Linked DNA regions of Homo sapiens: region 1 is linked to region 2. The links come from fine-mapping of genetic effects on plasma protein levels. Region 2 holds a variant in brackets. A gene starts in the other region. All regions are shown on their forward strands.

Region 1 (9,618 bases), not on the chromosome of region 2:
CCATCTGGGGGTGCGGCAAGGGGTCCTGCTGGGGAATAAGTCCCACGGGGCCTGGGGGGTGCTGTGCCCAGAGGGGAGGAGACAGGAAGCGATGGGTATGGGCGCCAGGTTTGGGGAGGAGGCCCCTTTCCCATAGCCGTCGACCTGCGGGCCCCACAGGATCTGGCCGCTCCAGTCCCGGCCACCTGACCCCTTCCCCCACCCACCCGCCATCCTGCCTGGAGGTCTGGCCTCGCCTGCCCCACGGGGCGGGGGGCGGGGGGCTCTCAGAGGCGCGGCCCCAACCCTGTGCAGGGCCTGCAGGCTGAACCGTGTGCAGGAACCCGGGGAACTCGGTGAAGGTGCTGGATGGGGGACAGGACGGCCTCTGACTTCCCTATGCTGCGGGGGGGGAGGCTTGTGGTTAGCAGAGAGTGGGTGGAAGACAGAGGTTTGAGGAGAGAGAGACCCAGGGGAGAAAACCAGCTGCAGAGGCAGGAGGGGTCCAGGGCAGCCCGAGGCCAGAGATGGGCGTCTTCCTTACAGCCACCTGTGGTCCCGGCACCTTGGGCTGTTGTGAGTGGCGCGTGGCGCTCCCACTGTGCACCCCCGGGGCCGGTTCCCCACTTCCACGACACCGGCAGGGGGGAGCCATCCGCCAGGCACAGGAGGCCTGGACAGCCGTGGGCAGCGTGCGCTGTTGGAGGACGCAGGGAGAGGGAAGGCTGGCCCAGGGACGCTGTGTGGGGCAGCGGGTGCAGCTGCGGGGCTGGGCCACACCAGCCACGGTAGCCGGAGTGTCCAGGCTGTGCCAGGCCCTCAGCAAAACCTTCCATGAGGCTTCATGTGTTTCTTCTTAAGTAATTTTTTTAAATTTCTTTTTTTTTTTCCAGTCACGTCTCACTGCAGCCTCCATCTCTTGGGCTCAAGTGATCCTCCCACCTCGGCCTCCCAAGTAGCCGGGACCACAGGCATGCACCACCACACCCGGCTGATTTTTTCTATTTTTCATAGAAAAGGGTCTTGCCATGTTACCCAGGCGGGTCTCAAACTCCTGAGCTCAGACGATCGTCTGGCCTCAGCCTCCCAAAGTGCTAGGATTCTAGGCGTGAGCCACCGTGACCGGCCTCGGCTGTGTGTTTCTTGCTCATGAGTGCAGTGAGGGCCAGGCGTGGTGGCTCACACCTGGAATCGCAGTACTCCAGGGCACCGAGGCAGGTGGATCACCTGAGGTCAGGAGTTCAAGACCAGCTTAGCCAACATGGTGAAACCCTGTCTCTAATAAAATACAAAAATTAGCCGGGTGTGGTGCTGGGCGCCTGTAGTCCCAGCTACTTGGGAGGCTGAGGCAGGAGAATGGCGTGAACCCGGGAGGCAGAGGTTGGTGAGCTGAGATCACACCACTGCACTCCAGCCTGGGTGACACAGCAAGACTCCGGCAAAAAAAAAAAAAGAAAGAAAAAACAAGTGCAGTGAGACGTCTTAGCCCTCGGGAGTGTTTCTCTTCAGCCCCTGACACCATGGAGGCGAACAGGCACCTCCGCCTCCCGAGGGACACAGATGTCGCTTAGACGCCCGGGGTGTCTTCCCTGCGGGAAGCCTGCAGGGCTGCTCCCGCCTTGTTCCCGAGCTGTGGCCTCGGGCGTGACTGGCGCTCGGGAGCAGGCTCTGTGCTGCTCGAAGGATACCCCACTCCCAGACACCAGCTTGAGAAGATTCCCGCACGGCCGGGGACGGCCCCAGGGCCTTGGGAGCGTCTGTGGACACCTGTGGTGTGGGCCGAGGAGCTGGGAGCTCATCTGAACACGCCAGCACTCGCGCATCCACGCTGCTGGCGGATGCCTGGGTTTCTCCACTGTGGGGCCACGTTACATGAAGTCGCTGTGGTCATTCTCATTCAGATCCCAGGACTCTTAAGTGCGCAGGAGTGGGACGGCCGGGGCCCAGGGTGGACAGAAAGTTGGCTCAAGCAGAAACTGTGGTTTCCAAGGTGACTGTCCCCCTGGACACCTATGGCAGGGACATAGGGGCCGTGTGGGCCCTTTGCAGGGACTCCTCGGGGTGCTCAGGGGCCCTGGGACCCCCTTCCAGGTGCAGCAAGGGGTGGGCGTAGGTGTGGAGGGGAAGAGGGGCAGGTCTCTACACTCCTCCTCCAAGGACACAGAGCCCCGGGGGTCAGCCACTCCCAAGCTCCTTGGGCAACCCGGGGCTCAGGGGCCAGCTGCCCTTGTCAGCGCCTGGCCAGGAACCTCCACCCCAGGCAGCCTTGGGCCTGAGCTTTCCCAGTCTCTCCCCCCGCTCCCCACTCAATCTGGAACTCGCACCCAGGGACCAACCTCCAGGGTCCCACTTGACCCCGCTACCCTCACCTCCACCCTGGCCCAAGACCCCTCTCCAGCCACAGGTTGGCACAGCCCAAGTCTCCCAAGACCCCTCTCCAGCCACAGGTTGGCACGGCCCAAGTCTCCCAAGACCCCTTTCCAGCCACAGGTTGGCACGGCCCAAGTCTCCCAAGACCCCTCTCCAGCCAGAGGCGGGCACGGCCCAAGCCTCCCAAGACCCCTGTCCAGCCAGAGGCGGGCACGGCCCAAGCCTCCCAAGACCCCTCTCCAGTCAGAGGCGGGCACGGCCCAAGCCTCCATGCCACAGGTGTGCAGCCCACAGTGCCGGTCGGAGACTCCCGTCTGCCAAGGTTTTTATTGTGGTCCCGCGGGGCAGGAGGTATGCATGGCATACGTAAGCAGAGAGCCGGAGGCAGCCATCGGCACCTAGAACGGTGCAGAGTTGGCCCAGGAGCGTGGCGGGGCAGGCGGCCTGCACCTGCCCTGCTCGCCCAGCAGACCCTCCGGGCTCCAGCCTGGCGGGGCCCAGCGTCCACCTTGGTGGGCCCAGGTCAGATCTTGGCCAGGGTGGAGTGGGCGTCGGCCTGCTCCTCTTGGATGGGGGTCCGGAAACTGCCTCCCCCTGGGGAGGAAAAAAGGAGAGATTGGTGGGTGGGCCTCACCCGCCAGGAGCAGTGCGGCAGGGCCATGAGGCACTCACCAGGGGGCTTGTGGGCATCGGGGGGCAGCCTCTGGTCCCTCCGGAGCAGGTACAGGGCCAGCAGGATGGCCAGGGGGCCCAGCAGCCCCAGCACCAGGCCCAGGCCCAGGATGGCGGCAACCGCACGGCCTGCAGGAAGGGGTCTGCTGGGTGGGGTCCACAGGAGGGGCCCCCATGCCGCCCTCCCCTTCTCCTATTCGGGTTGGGGGCCCCGCTGGGCTGGGCCAGGCGCCCTTACCCCCGGGGACCTCCACGGGCCGGGTGGAGGGTCCCTGTGAGGTTCTGGGCCAGGCTTCAGTGGGCTGGACAGTGATGGGCCTGGCCGGGGGGCCCTGGGTCTCCTGGGGCTGCGTGGCTGGGGGGTCCCTGTCCTCACAGATTGCGTCCGAGCTATTGCTGGCCGGCTGCAGGGTGTGCTTCCCAGCCAAGGTGCAGCTGTTGGGGAACAGGAGGTGTTGCTCAGGCCAGAAACCCCCTGGGACCCGGGAGATGCGGTGGGGATAACAGGGTCCACGCTGGCCAGCCACAGGCAGCATCTACCACAGACACCAGGCCAGTGACAGCCAAGGACGCTGCCCAGCCCCACGTGCCCCCCACAGGGGCCTCCAAGGCCACACACCCTTCTCCCACATCTACACCCCCCACCAGCACCTCCCTGTCCTGTGCCCCCAGGGCCTCCCAGCTGCGGAGGGTGAGGGTCCCACACACCCAGCTCCACCCACAGGGAAAGGCTGCCCCCAGGCAGCAGCTTCCTGCTCCCCAACCAGGTCCAGCCACATAGCCAGGCCCCCAGGGCCACCAGCACCTCCCCTTCCCCCAAAACTGCCCCCACCCCACCTGCCCCCCCAGCCCCTCCCAGCTCCCCAGCTCCTCCGCCCTCCTAACCACCCCAACCCCCCCCCAGCCCCTCCCAGCCCCTGGCCAGGCCCCTCACTTGGTCCAGGGCTTGCAGGCCTGGTTGTCGCCTGGGGAGAAGTGCCCTGGAGGGCAGGGGGCACAGTCTGCAACAAAGATAGGGTGGTCAGGGGCTGCCCACAGGCCCCGGGTGCTGGGGACATGGGGCAGAGCCTGTGGGGCAGGCACTTGCCCCCCATGGCTGGGTGGTGGGTTTGGCCTCTGGAAGCCCTCCCTGCCCACATCCCACCCGTGGGCCCTGACCCGGGAGCTCGGTCTTGAGGATGCCAGAGGAGGCACCGGTGGGGCCAGGTCCCTGCGGCCCACGGCCCATCTGCGTCACAGACAGCCGCTATGCACACCCCCAACCGCCGGCCGCAGCCACCGAGCTCACCAACTCCAGGCTTGTAGCTGTCCAGGGGCTGGGTGCCCGCCCGGCAGCGGCAGACTGTGTCCTGTGTGGCCGTGCACAGCTGCTTCCGCTCACTCCCACTTCCTGAGCAGGGGCCGGATGGGGGGGTGGTCAGGTGGGGGCTGTGGACAGGGTCCTCAGGAAGCGTGGGCACTGGAGGACAGGTTGGCCTCCCCACCACACAGAGGGCCGTGGGCAGGGGTCTGCGGCCTCCCCTGAGACTTGGAGCCCCTGCAGCCCCCGAGGCTCCTGGGCCCTCCCTTCCTGGCCACAACCTGGGGCTGGTTCCGTGGCAGCCCCAGCCACCCTTCCCTACCCCTCCACCGCCTCCAGCCGCCAGCCCCGCCTGCGGCAGGGTCTCCATGGCCCAACCCCCCAGCCTCACTGCTCAGGCCAGCAAGGCCAGGCCACATGGCCAGCGTGGTCTCCCCGACTCCACGTGGCCTGGGCCGAGTCTGGGCCCCCGGAGGGAGAGGGGGTGCCCCTGGGAGACGCCTCAGCTCCTCGAAGGACCCCTGTGGCGGAGCAGACCCCGCTGTGGTTTGAGGTTCGTTTCTGCGGCTGTGGGAGCCCCATGCTGCTGCGTGGGAATGTGGGTGCCAGGCTGCCGCCCCCTGTGCTGGGTGGGGCTGTGGGGCCAGGTGGGAGCTCACTGAGGTTACACCACGTGCAGGGCTTGCACGGCTTGGAGCTGACCACGTCGTTGTAGAAGCCCGGCCCGCACGGACGGCACACCGTGTTCTGGGAGCGGCTGCAGCGGCTCACCATCCCGTTGCCTGCAGCAGAGGCCGGCGTCAGGCAGCGGTCAGGCCCCAGGCTTGCGCCCGTGGACCCCCCCAGGCGGCTCCTCTGCCAGGCTTGGCCGGCCCCTCACCCGCCCCCTCCCCAGGACCAGCCTCCTGGCTGGCCCATCCCTGCCCCAGCCCCCAGTCCCTGGAGTGCCCGTGCGTGGCGACCCCTCCTGAGGCCTCACCTGGCCTGCACTCGTGGCAGCACCGGTCGTTGCTGGGGTAGGTGTCCCCGACACAGTGGAGCCCCGTCACGGTGCTCAGCCCCAGGCCCAGGAGGAGCAGAGCCGCACACGGCCCGCGGCCCAGCCGCCGAGCCCCCACGCACATCCTCGTCTCTGCTGTCGCCAGAGTCTGGGTTTTCCTTGCGGGGTGTGGCTATAAGGACTGTGGAGGAGGGGAGGGGAGAGGGGAGGAGGGCAGAGGAGGCGGGAGGAGGAAGGTGGCAGGCCGGGGACCCTGGCTGTGGGCTGGGCACAAAGGCGGGGTCTGGGCACCCCCAGCATTGGCTTATTCTGCCTTCTGACCTCTTCTGCCCAAGACCACCGTGTTCAGACCCCAGGGCACAGTAGGGCCTGGCCTGCGGCTCGACCCTCAGCAAAAAGGTCCATGGAGCACGTGGGTAAACTGAGGCAGCACTGAGTCAGGAGAGGCAACTCCTCAGTCTGGACCTTCAGGGCTGTGGCACTGCTGAAGCATGGTCCCCCTTGTATGCCCAAGACTAGCTCTGAGCAGCAGTGACCACAGCCATGGTAAGACAGACACCCATGGCCAGGCACGGTGGCTCCCGCCTGTAATCCCAGCACTTTGGGAGGCCAAGGCGGGTGGATCACCTGAGGTCAGGAGTTCAAGACCAGTCTGGCTAACATGGCGAAATCCCGTCTCTACTAAAACTACAAAAATTATTCGGGCGTGGTGGCGGGCGCCGGTAATCCCAGCTAGTCAGGAGGCTGAGGTAGCAGAATCACTCGAACCCAGGAGACAGAAGTTGCAAAGCAGAGGTGGCGCCACTGCACTCCAGCCTGGGCGACAGGGCGAGACTCATCTCAAAAAAAAAAAAAAAGACACCCGTGACCACAGCCCACGCTGAGTGTGCCTGAGCACGGCAGGTGTCTATGGCTGAACTGTGCCCCTTAAATTCCTGCGTGGAAGCCCTAACCCCCATGTGGCAGTGTTTGGAGACAGGCCTCTGAGGAGGTGGTGAGGGTGGGTCCTGGATGGCCTGGCGCACACGGGCACGCAGGCAGGTTTCCACCTTCTATGCAAACAGTTCTCAGGTTCCAGGTTTGCCCAGAGGATGCGAACTGCCCGGAGAGCTGGGGAGCAGGTGCGGGGCTGGGGGCTCCCTGGGCCCTTTCTGCACCTTTCAAATAACTGTGACCAGCCTGTGATTATCCAAAAGTTCATTTTTGAAGTTGCAAGTGGAGAGGGGCCTCTAGGAACAGAGCAGCAGGGAAGGGGCTGGAAATCCCCTCCTCCCAGGAGCACAGGAAACAGCTGCCTGTCCTCGGCCCACCCGTGGGGAAATTCCCAGCCGTGGAGCCCGCTGGCCCTGGAGAGGGAGGGAGTGGAGGGAGAGGCCACCCGCCCTCGGACTGAGGGTCCCTAAGTTGGTCACCCTCCCCACGTCCCCACAAGTAGAGAGGACCCTGGAAGGGCTCAGAGCATCCCAGACAGTGTGTGTACCTGCATGTGCACACCCCAACCCAGGTGGGCAGAGGAGGAAAGTTCTGGCATTTTGTGGAAGGTTCCACCCAGCGTTCACAAGGGTTTCCCACTGACAGTGAGAAAAAGCTTACATTTGCAATTGGTTCCTTGGAGGTTCAGGTGAACTGGGGGTCTTGGTGGGCAACACTGCTCTCCTGGGGCCTAAGTGGCCACATCTGCCCACAGGTGCAGTGAGTGGGGCCCGTGCACCATGGAGAGGGCACCCCCAGCATATTGCTGGCAACTGCAATGGCCCCAGGATGGGGCACGGCCCCTCCTGCTTGAAGCTGCCCAGGAAGCTCAGGTCTCCTTGTCCTGGGCTTAAGGTCACAGGTCCAAGAAAGCCCTGCTGTGTCCATGGAACCGGGTGTGGCGTGGCCACAGGAGGCTGGACACTGACCCAGAGCTCAGGACCCCCAAGGTCTGTAAGGCAGCCTGCAGCTCGAACCACATCCCCAGGAGCTGGGCTCCCCGCTCCACACAGTAGTGTCGCGGGCGGCACAGGGCAGCCCATGAGTGGCCACTGCTCCTCCAGTACCAGACTGGAGCTGGCTGGGGCCTCTGAAGGGCCAGGTGCCACCACATACCCAGCTGTCCCCCCGCCTTCATGTCCAGCACAGCATGGCCTCAGCTCACACCTCCCACCTCTGGGTGCACGGCCCTCAGCACAGGGCGTCGAATGCTGCTGCAGCTATGATGGTCCCTGGCTGTGGCCTGGGGCCACGGATGGGGAAAGACAGAGTCCAGGCCACCGAAGGTTGGCTCCAGGGAATTACAGCCCCTTAGAGCAGGGCGTGGGACCATCCTCCCACCACCTGCGCTGGCCGTGGCTCTGTGAATCTCGTTTGCCTGGGAACCAGCCCAGGTGCCAACCCGCCCTCTCGGCCCCACAGGGGCCCCTGGGCAGGTGGGCTCAGGGCAGAGGCCGGTCACATGGGCACCACAGGGCAGACTGAAGAGGACACACTCCCGGCTTCCCTGAGCTCCCACTGGGAGAGCCAGGACACAGCCTGGGCCCCCACACGCCACAGAGCAGGACCCCCACCAGCCGTCCTAACACACCCCATTCTCTGCCCCATCTGGGGCTAGGCCTGCCCCACTGCACCCAAAGACCTTGCCATCCTCCACCCAAAACCCCCAGGCGGCTCTGTCTCCTGCCTTAAATGTCCAAACCCCAAACTCAGTGGGCACGTCTGCTGCCCCCTGACCCCTACTCACAAACGCAGCGCTGCCCTCCGTCCTCCCAGAGCCCCTGCCCGTTGCCACCTGCCAGGAGAATCACCTCGAACCGGCCATGACCTCCAACCCTCCACGTGACCCAGCACCAGCCTCCAGCGCTCCAGTGGAAACTGTAACCACAAACCTAGCACGCTGCTGTTGTGTTTTGTTTCACGCCCAAAGAATGAAGCTGACCAAAAAAGGCAACTATATTTAAAGTAAATGTATGTGATTCTTGTCACAACAAATATTTGCATTTTCTCAGCGGCAGCTGCGGGACCTGGGTGGCTCCGACACGCCAGGCCCGGGAAGGACCCGGCACCCTCCCCTGAACTTCCTGGCTACTCATTTCCAGCGAAGTTTAATCTATTTTTAATAATCGTTCAGTTTTCAAGGAAATGGAGGAGCTGTTTTTTCCCACGGAGCGGCGGCCCTGGGAGGGGCCGGGCCCAGAGGTTCCGGCCGCGATGCCGTCAGCGCCTTCGGCAGAGTGACTGAAGCGAGATTTCGTTCTCAGAAGTGAGATGCCACGATTTCGAGGGACCAGGGAGGAGGCGGCGCCGCGGGGCCACAGCCCAGCCCCGCGCCCCGACCGCGTCACAGCCAAAGCCCCGCCGGGGTGCGCGCTGCAGAGGGGACACGCCGCTCATCAACTGGGGCAGCCGCGGTCGGTCGGCCGGTGGCGGGCGGCAGGGAAGAGGTGGGGTCCGGGACAGCCACGGAGCCCGGAGTCACCCGCGAGGCCGCCCCGGTGGTGCGTGGGGGGCGGCGCGGGGCGCGGCCGGGCGCTCAAAACTCCTCGTGCACGCTGCGCGCGTAGTCCACCAGCTTGCTGCCCGTGAAGAACTCGCTGTACTTGAGCACCTCCTCGGGCTCCAGGTGGTGGTTCTGGTTCTCGTCGGCGACGGCGATCATCTGCTTGGCCTCGTTCAGCGCGTTGTACTCGTTCATGGGGTCCATGTAGCTCTGCGGGCGAGCGGGGCACAGGTCAGCGTCGCCTTTCCCCCTCCGAGCTCCGCGGCCAGCCGCACGAAGTGGCTATTTAAGGTGCCTATTGGCTGCAGCGGGAGTGTGGGCACGTTCTGGAAGGTTCCCGAAGGGAGGCGGCACAAATGAAAACACAGGGCAGGGAGAAGCCGGGGGCCCCGGAAGGCCTGCCCGGGGCCAGCAGGGGTAACGGGGCACAGGGGCTACACAGGCCTGGACCCCAGTTCTGAAGGATCCCTAACCTGGGCCGGGCCCACTGGCTGTCGCCAGGAATCACAGGATTCTACATAAAAACAAGATGACTCACTCAGCAGTGGGAGAAAAACAAGCCTACACATGATACCAGTGAAAACGCTTCAGAGGAAGGTGGTAAATTCCAGCCATGTGGCACAGGCCGCCCCGCCCACCTGCACCTGCTGGGCCTTGGACCTGCCTCCATGCTGGGCCCAGCATGAGCTTCCCCTTGTGGTCCCGTTAAAAAGGGGCTGTGAGAACCCTGACGCCTCCGCAAGGGGCTGAGGATGGAGCCCGGCCAGGCTCGCCTGTCTCTGATCCGTCTGAACCTAAACGCCAACAACGGCCATGCAGCCT
Region 2 (9,540 bases):
AGGCTGGAGCGCAGTGGCATGATCTCAGCTTATTGCAACCTCCGCCTCCCGGGTTCAAGTGATTCTCCTGCCTCAGCCTCCCGAGTATCTGAGATTACAGATGTGTGCCACCATGCCTGGCTAATTTTTGTATTTTTAGTACAGATGAGGTTTTGCCATGTTGCCCAGGCTGGCCTCAAACTCCTGACCTCAGGTAATCCTCCTGCCTCAGCTCTTCCCAAAGTGCTGGGATTATAGGCATGAGTCACCGGGCCCAGACTCAATCTTCTGACAAGCTCTCAGAGAGAGTAAAAAGCAAATGAATATTTCATTATTTTGATCTGAGCTTTACGATTTTTCTTTTCTTTTCTTTTTTTTTTTTTTTTGAGATGGAGTTTTGCGTTGTTGCCCAGGCTAGAGTGCAGTGGTGGCGATCTTGGCTCACCGCACCCTCCGCTTCCCGGGTTCAAGCGATTCTTCTGCCTCAGCCTCCTGAGTAACTGGGATTACAGGCATGCGCCACCATGCCCGGCTGATTTTGTATTTTTAGTAGGGACAGGGTTTCTCCATGTTGGTCAGGCTGGTCTTAAGCTCCCGACCTCAGGTGATCCACCTGCCTCGGCCTCCCAAAGTGCTGGGATTACAAGCATGAGCCACCTTGCCCAGCCTTTTTTTTTTAAATCTGAGAAGAGGTCTTGCTCGATTGCCTAGGCTGGAGTGCAGTGGTGCGATCTCTGCTCACTGCATTCTCTGCCTCCCAGACTCAAGCAATCCTCCCACCTTAGCCTCCTGAGTAGCTGGGACTACAGGCATATGCCACCACACCTGGCTAATGTTCGTATTTTTTTGTAGAGACAGGGTTTTGCCATTTTGCCCAGGCTGGTCTTGAACTCCTGACCTCAGGTGATCCTCCCACCTTGGCCTCCCAAAGTGCTGGGATTACAGGTGTGAGCCACTGTGCCTGGTCTCCTTCACTGTTGTAAGATACTTGAATTGGGTCAATATTTGTGGAGAAGTCTCTTAAAAGTTCACTTGATTGTCAGTACTAGAACTCTACATTTAATATTGACATATTCCTGGGAGCATTTCAGAGCATTCTATTAGCTTAGAAAGGTCCAGGATAATTTGACTTTAGAAGTTACTGTTACCATGAATCTCAATGACTTTTGAAATCCATGAAGAATATCTTTTTTTTTTTTTTGAGACGGAGTCTCACTCTGTCGCCCAGGCTGGAGTGCAGTGGTGATCTGGGCTCACTGCAAGCTCCGCCTACTGGGTTCACGCCATTCTCCTGCCTCAGCCTCCCGAGTAGCTGGGATTACAGGCACATGCCACCACGCCTGGCTAATTTTTTTGCATTTTTAGTAGAGAGGGGGTTTCACTGTGTTAGCCAGGATGGTCTCGATCTCCTGACCTTGTGATCCGCCCGCCTCGGCCTCCCAAAGTGCTGGGATTACAGGCGTGAGCCACCGCGCCTGCCCAAGAATATCTTTTTGCTGGTAACTAGAGAGGACTCCTCTGAAGCAGATGCCATTCATGATGGATTTCATCATTTATGGGTTTTAAAAAACATTTTATTTTGAAATAATTTCAAATTTAAATAAGAGTTGCAAAATAGTACAAATAATTCGTGTTAACTTTTCATCCAGATTTACAAGTCAACCTTATACAGGTTGAGTATCCCTTATCCAAAATGCTTGGGACCAGAAGTGTTTTGGATTTCAGATTTTTTCGAATTTTGGAATATTTTTATTATATACTTAAGCATCTCTAATCCCCAAATCTCAAATCTGAAATATCTGAAATGCTATGATGAGCATTTCCTTTGAGTGTTATGTGGGCACTTTTTAAATTTATTTAATTAATTTATTTTTTGAGATGGAGTATTGCTCCATCACCCAGGCTGGAGTGCAGTGAGCGATCTTGGCTTATTGCAAACTTCACCTTCTGGGTTCAAGTGATTCTCCTGCCTCAGCCCCCTGAGTAGTTGGGACTATAGGCGCTTGCCACCACGGCCGGCTAATTTTTGTATTTTTAGTAGAGACAGGGTTTCACCGTGTTGGCCAGGCTGGTCTCGAACTCCTGACCTCAGGTGGTCCACCTGCCTCCGCCTCCCAAAGTGCTGGGATTACAGGAGTGAACCACCGCGCCTGGCCATGGATTTTGCAGCATTTTAGATTTGGGATACTCAACCTGTACCATGTTTACTCTCTCTCCTCTCTCTCTCTCTCTTTTTATATATATATATATATATATATATATATATATATATATATATATATAAATTATATATACACTACACATATATGTATGTATATGTATGTATTTTATATATAAAATACATATCTACATATAAAATACACATGTATATATACATGTGTACATATATGTGTCTCTATATTTAAGTTTTGTTGGAACCACTTGAGGGTAAGTTGCAGACATGGCGTCTCATTGCTCCAAAATACTTCAGTGTGTATTTCTTAAATACAAGGACACTTGGTTACATAACCACAGTATATCACCAAATGTATATTATAACAAGACTACCATCAAATCCTTATATCTCTTTCAAATTGTTTTAGTAATATCCTTATAGCAAAAGACAAAACAACAACAAAAACTGTTCCCTTTTATTTTGTTTGTTTTGGTCCATTATATGTCCAGGTTATGCATTAATGCATTGTGTTACTTGCTAAGTCTTGTTACTGGCCTTTAATTAGGATATTTCTTTGCATCCCGCCAAACTCCTCTTCATGGTTGTATCTTTTTTTTTTTTTTTGGAGATGGAATTTTGCTTATGTTGCCCAGGCTGGAGTATAATGATGCGATCTTGGCTCACTGCAACCTCCGTCTCCCGGGTTCAAGCGATTCTCCTGCCTCAGCCTCCCGAGTAACTGGGATTGCAGGCCTGCGCCACCTTGCCCAGCTAATTTTGGAATTTTGTGAGACGGGGTTTTGCCATGTTGGTCAGACTAGTCTCGAACTCCTGACCTCATGATCCGCCCGCCTTGGCCTCCCAAACTGTTGGGATTACAGGTGTGAGCCACTGTGCCCGGTCTTTTTTTTTTTTTTTTTGAGACAGGGTCTTATTCTGTTGCCTGGCCTGGAGTGCAGTGGTATGATCTTGGCTCACTGCAACCTGGACCTCCTGGGCTCAGGCGATCCTCCCACCTCAGCCTCCTTAGTAGCTGGGACTATAGGCACACACCACCATGCATGGCTAATTTTTATATTTTTTTGTAGAGACTGGGTTTCGCCATGTTGCCCAAGCTGGTCTTGAACTCCTGGGCTCAAGTGATCCACCTGCCTTGGCCTCCCAAAATGCTAGGATTACAGGTGTAAGCCACTGCGCCTGGCCCTAATTTTTGCATTTTTTGTAGAGATGGGGTTTCACTATATTGCCCAGGCTGGTCTTGAACTCCTGGGCTCAAGTGATCTTCCCATCACAGCCCCCTAAAGTGCTGGGATTATAGGCGTGAACCACTGTGCCTGGCTGAGGATTAAGTTTCAACCTCAGGGGAGCGGCATTCAAACTATAGCATTGTCCTTTAGTGACTGGCTTAGTTCACTTAGAATGTTTGTCTATTCATCCATCTATAGACACTGTTTTCTTTCACCTTTTGGCTTTGCAAATAATGCTGCTGTGAATATGAGTTATAGAAAAATACCAATTTGAATCCGTGTTTTCAATTACTTTGAGTATATACCTGGAAGTGGAATTTCTGGATCATATGGTACTTCCAAGTTTTTTTTTTTTCTTTTTTGAGACAAGGTCTCACTCTGTCACCCAGGCTGGAGTGTAGTGGCACGATCTTGGCTCACTGCAACCTCCGCCTCCCGGGTTCAAGCGATTCTCCTGCCTCAGCCTCTCAAGTAGCTGGGATTACAGGCACGCGCCACCACGCCCAACTAATTTTGTATTTTTAGTAGAGATGGGTTTCTCCATGTTGGTCAGGCTGCTCCCGAACTCCCGACCTCAGGTGATCTGCCTGCCTCAGCCTCCCAAAATTCTGGGATTACAGGTGTGAGCCACCGCACCTGGCCTCCATGTTTCAATTTTTAAACAAACAATTAGTTAAAAAAATAGGAAACTAAGAGAATGAACTATTTCCTGTTTTATTCAGTGGGTTATAATCTGTTACTATCATTGTTTATTTTGAGGTACAAATTGTCCCTACTTTGGCCAGCAGAGGATCCTGCAGTTTGTCTCCTGTGTCCTTTTCATAGCTCCTTGTTGGAACTCTTACTGGCCCACAATAGGATGTTCCAAGTTCATCTTCTTACTTTTACTGCCCCAACGCTGGGATCAGCCATTTCTTCAAGGAGGCCAGTTCCTTTCATTGGAGAATGGAAAACCCAATATGTAGAAACCAAGATAGAGGTGTTAGGTGTGATTGCTACTGGAGTGTCATTGCTTCCAAACCCTTTCAGAAGAGACCTAGGAAATGTGTGTGTGTGTGTATATATATATGTGTGTGTGTGTGTGTATTCATAAAAGCACATACACATACACATACCCCGAAGCATGTATTTCTGTATTATTATTATTTTTTTGAGATGGAGTCTTGCTCTGTCGCCCAGGCTGGAGTACAGTGGCACGATCATGGCTCACTGCAACCTCTGCCTCCTGGATTCAAGCAATTCTCCTGTCTCAGCCTCCTGAGTAGCTGGGATTACAGGTGTCCACCACCACGCCCACCTAATTTTTGTATTTTTAGTAGAGATGGGGTTTCACCACATTGGCCAGGATGGTCTTGAACTCCTGACGTCAAGTGATCTGCCCGCCTCGGCCTCCCAAAGTGCTGGGATTATAGGCGTGAGCCACTGTTCCCATCCAGAAGCATACATATCTATTTCTATATCTACATTTCTGTCTTTACATGTATATATTAAAAATTACAGTTTGCACTAATACCTCCAATTACAATCTAACATCATGGGATTTATTCTGGCTTTCTCCCTTCTCATATTTGTGTCTCCCCAACAGTGAGAAACCTGGCTTGCTATCCTCAACATGGTAACTTATTTATTAAGAAACTTATTCTTTTTTTTTTTTTTTTTCTGAGATTGAGTTTC[G/A]CTCTTGTTGCCCAAGCTGGAGTGCAGTGGTGTGATCTTGGCTCACCGCAACCTCTGCCTCCTGGGTTCAAGCGATTCTCCTGCCTCAGCTTCTCAAGTAGCTGGGATTACAGGCATGCACCACCATGCCCAGCTAATTTCGTATTTTTAGTAGAGATGGGTTTCTCCATGTTGGTCAGGCTGCTCTGGAACTCCCGACCCCAGCTGATCTGCCTGCCTCGGCCTCCCAAAGTCCTGGGATTACAGGCGTGAGCCACCGTGCCCTGCCTCTAGTTTATTTATTTTTATTCCATGTGCTCAGTCTTGCGAGCACGTGGTCTGTTTTCTTGGGCCTGGCCCCCTCAGTGCACTGTCTTAATACCCTAGCCCCCAGTCCCTCTGATCATATCCCCAGACACCCCTACTGAATCCCAGGTCTCTACCAAGGGAAAGGCAGGGAGGAGGCATTGACCAAGGAGAAGAGGGGGAAGGGACAGGGAAGGTCTTGATTTGTATTTTCTAAAATTTTCTACTCTGCTCATAATGCGTCTTAGCTGTGTTGTTGTGGAAAGTAGTGCTGACAGTGTCTTGTTTTTTTATTACTTACTTTGTCTTTCTTTTTAAGATGGTTTCACCCAAATATCACTGGTGTGGAGGCAGAAAACCTACTGTTGACAAGAGGAGTTGATGGCAGTTTTTTGGCAAGGCCTAGTAAAAGTAACCCTGGAGACTTCACACTTTCCGTTAGGTAAGTTGGAATGAAAAGAGAGGATCCTGAGAGTGTTTTCTAGGTAGGAAGTGGTAAAACCATGCTTGGATAGCTTGCTGCCTGCATTTCGAGTTTGAAGGCCTTATCTGAGCCCTGGGCTGCCTTCAGGGTTTGGGGAGTGGCCTCCTGGACATTTAGCAGAAGAGGAGTAAGGAGGGCCCTTCTTCTCCCTCTGAGACCTCATGGAAGGTGAGTTGGAGCAGGTCATAGAAGTTCTTAAGCCCTCCAGTGCTTGAGACTTGTTCCACACATCTTGAACCTGGTTTCTGCATTTTTCTTTTCCTTCCTGTTGATTTATTTAAAAATTTTATTTCTTTTCAATTTTTTTTTTTTTTTAAATAGAGGTGGGATCTTCCAATGTTGGCCAGGTTGGCCTTGAACTTCTGGCCTCAAGCAATCCTGCCTCGGCCTCCCAAAGTGTTAGGATTACAGGCGTGAGCCACTATGCCTGGCCTTCTTTTTTTGAGACAAGCTGTTGCTCTGTTGCCCAGGCTGGAGTGCAGTGGTACGATCACAGCTTACAGCAGCCTTGAACTCCTGGGCTTAAGTGATCCTCCCGCCTCAGCCTCCCGGGTAGCTGGGACTCCAGGCTTGTGCCACCATGCTCAGCATTTTTAAAAAATATTTTTTGTAGAGATGAGGTCTCACTGTATTACCAAGGCTGATCTTTAACTCTTAGCCTCAAGTGATCCTCCTGCCTCAGCCTCCCAAAGTGTTGGGATTACAGGCATGAGCCACCACACTCAGACTTTGTTGACTTCTTAATAAGAAAAATACTTGTTAAGAGTTTCTTCAGATCACTTTCCTTTATCAACAAGTAAAACATGACTGAGGAAGTTGTGGTCCCCTTTGCTTCCCTGCCCAGGCCCGTTTCCCTCCCTCTTTCCCCAGAGGAAACCACCAAGAGGTTGGCATATATTCTTCCTGAACGTGTTTTTATAGTTGTACTGCACTTGTACTGTGTATGAACAATATAAAGTTGGTTTGTGTGTTTAAAAAATTCACATACATGGATTTATAATGTATGTATCATTTTGCAACTTAAAAATTTTTTTTTGAGCTCCATGCTGATTGATAACGATCTATTTTTTTTTTTTGAGATGGAGTTTCAGTCTTATTGCCCAGGCTGAAGTGCAATGGCGTGATCTCAGCTCACTGCAACCTCAGCCTCCTGGGTTCAAGCTATTCTCCTGTCTCAGCCTCCGGAGTGGCTGGGATTACAGGTGCATGCCACCATGCCCAGCTAATTTTTGTATTTTTAGTAGAGATGGGGTTTCACCATGTCGACCAGGCTGGTCTCAAACTCCTGACCTCAGGTGATCTGCCTGCCTTGGCCTCCCAAAGTGCTGGAATTACAGGCATGAGCTACCATGCCTGGCCTTTTTTTTTTTTTTTTTTTGAGACAAAGTCTTGCTCTTTTTCCCAGGCTGGAGTGCAGTGGCCACAATCTTGGCTCACTGCAACCTCTGCCTCCTGAGTTCAAGCAGTTCTCCTGCCTCAGCCTCCTGAGTAGCTGGGATTACAGACATGTACCACCATGCCAAGTTAATTTTTGTATTTTTTGTAGAGACTAGGTTTTACCATGTTGGCCAGGCTGGTCCTGAACTCCTGACTTAAAGTGATCCATCTGCCTTGGCTTCCCAAAGTGCTGGGGTTACAGGCATGAGCTATCGCGCCTGGCCTGAGAAATCTCATTCTTACTCCTACTCCCTTGCACACTATCTCCATTCTGTAGGTAGCCATTTCTATTAATTTCTTGTTTACCCTTCTGTGTTTCTTTCATTCTTTTTCTTTTTTTCTTTTTTTTTTTTGAGACAATCTTGCTCTGTTGCCCAGACTGGAGTGCAGTGGTGTGATCTTGGCTCACCGCAACCTCCACCTCCTGGGTTCAAGTGATTTTCATGACTCAGCCACCTAAGTAGTTGGGATTACAGCGCCTGGTGTACACTACCACACCCAGCTAATTTGTGTATTTTTAGTAGAGATGGGGTTTCACCATGTTGTCCAGGCTAATCTCCAACTCTTGGCCTCAAGGGATCTGCCTGTCTCAGCCTCCCAAAGTGCTGGGATTATAGGCATGAGCCACCATGCCTGGCCCTATGTTTCTTTTTATAAAAATAAGCAAATTAATATTTTTATTACTATTTTCCTTTTATTTTTACACATCAAGTAGAACATTAAATATATTTCTCTGTAATTTTTTTCAGTTACCTAAATCTTTTAGTGATCTCTCTCATCTTTTTAATCAGCTGGATCGCATTCTATCATGTGAATATTTTATAACTTCTATATACTGTCACCAGCAGGTAGCGATTTAGTTGTGTCTAATATTTTAAAATGATATATAATGCCTCAATGAATATAGTAACCTTTTGCATATATTGTTTTGTGCTTTGGGATAACACTACCTCGTATTGGAAACTGTGTCATTACATGTGTCTTTAAAATTACATGTGTCTTTTTATTTTTATTTTTATTTTTTTTGAGTGGGAGTTTCACTCTTGTTGCCCAGGCTGGAGTGCAGTGGTGAGATCTCGGCCGACTGCAACTTCCGCCTCCCGGGTTCAAGCGATTCTCCTGCCTCAGCCTCCCCAGTAGGTGAGATTACAGGTGCCTGCCACCACGCCCAGCTAATTTTTGTATTTTTAGTAGGGACGGGGTTTCACCATGTTGGCCAGGCTGGTATCGGTCTGCTGACCTCAGGTGATCCTCCCACCTCAGCCTCCCAAAGTGCTGGGATTACAGACGTGAGCCACCATGCCTGGCCATCACTTTTTTTTTTTTCTTAATTGCTGCATAGTGGCCGGGCACAGTGGCTCACGCCTGTAATCCCAGCACTTTGGGAGGCCAAGGCAGGCGGCGGATCATGAGGTCAGGAGACCAATACCATCCTGGCTAACATGGTGAAACCCCGTCTCTACTAAAAATACAAAAAAATTTAGCTGGGCGTCGTGGCGGGCGCCTGTAGTCCCAGCTACTTGGGAGGTTGAGGCAGGAGAATGGTGTGAACCCGGGACGTGGAGCTTGCAGTGAGCCAAGATTGCACCACTGCACTCCAGCCTGGGTGATGGAGTGAGACTCTGTCTCAAAAACAAACAAACAAACAAAAAAATTGCTGCATAGTATTCCATTGTATGAGTAGTAACACAACAATTTTTATAATGCATAGTATTCCATTGTATGAATAGTAATGTAGCACTATTTGTTTATACATTTTTATGATTAAAAAACAAAATGTTTTTCTATTATGAATAAAGTGGCAATGAATATTTTTGTACAAGTGTTTTGGTAGCTATACAGTTATTGTCACTTAATATATGCAATTCGATAGGCCAGTCATTCAAAATAGAAGATATACAAGGTAGGCCGGGCGTGGTGGCTCACGCCTGTAATCTCAGCACTTTGGGAGGCCGAGGTGGGTGGATCACCTGTGGTTAGGAGTTTCAGACCAGCCTGACCAACATGGAGAAACCTCATCTCTACTAAAAATACAAAAGTAGCTGAGCGTGGTGGCGCATTCCTGTAATCCCAGCTTCTTGGGAGGCTGAGGTAGGAGAATCACTTGAACCTGGATTTATAATGTATGTAAATCCACCGCGAAGGTTGCGGTGAACCGAGATCACGTCATTGCACTCCAGCCTGGGCAATAAGAGCGAAACTCCATCTCAAAAAAAAAAAAAAAAGATATGCAAGGTAAAGATACTAATAAAGACCTTTGTGTTGAGTTGGTTGACATG

Alleles and levels. Positions count from the first base shown, and alleles are read on the strand shown. Strength reflects both the effect of a copy and how common the allele is.
As copies of A replace G in region 2, the plasma level of the protein whose gene starts at base 5,471 in region 1 goes up (moderate association).

What was found. A credible set is the group of variants that fine-mapping cannot tell apart. PIP is the chance, under the fine-mapping model, that this variant and not a neighbour inherited with it causes the effect. Protein levels are from antibody-based Olink assays in UK Biobank. Linkage for the fine-mapping came from a reference panel and not from the study's own genotypes, which makes the PIPs less certain.
Region 1: it holds the start of TNFRSF4, and the variant in region 2 is the best candidate, but not a certain one, in a credible set for the plasma level of the TNFRSF4 protein (UK Biobank, PIP 0.55).

What each region holds. Positions count from the first base shown.
Region 1 is chr1:1,208,683-1,218,300 of GRCh38, forward strand. TNFRSF4 (TNF receptor superfamily member 4) reads right to left here and starts at 5,471. Exons shown (of 7, transcript NM_003327.4): 1 at 5,301-5,471; 2 at 4,981-5,103; 3 at 4,310-4,411; 4 at 3,956-4,022; 5 at 3,260-3,456; 6 at 3,022-3,150; 7 at 2,658-2,943. The coding sequence starts at 5,445. The coding sequence ends at 2,873. It overlaps SDF4 (stromal cell derived factor 4), which reads right to left. Exons shown (of 7, transcript NM_016176.6): 7 at 8,249-9,006. The coding sequence ends at 8,830. RefSeq lists an enhancer at 1-369 and silencers at 236-345, 4,549-4,598.
Region 2 is chr12:112,440,617-112,450,156 of GRCh38, forward strand. It overlaps PTPN11 (protein tyrosine phosphatase non-receptor type 11), which reads left to right. Exons shown (of 16, transcript NM_002834.5): 2 at 5,660-5,782. Among named protein-coding and RNA genes, the nearest start is that of PTPN11, 26 kb to the left of the region's middle. The variant G/A (reference allele first, on the strand shown) is at 5,056.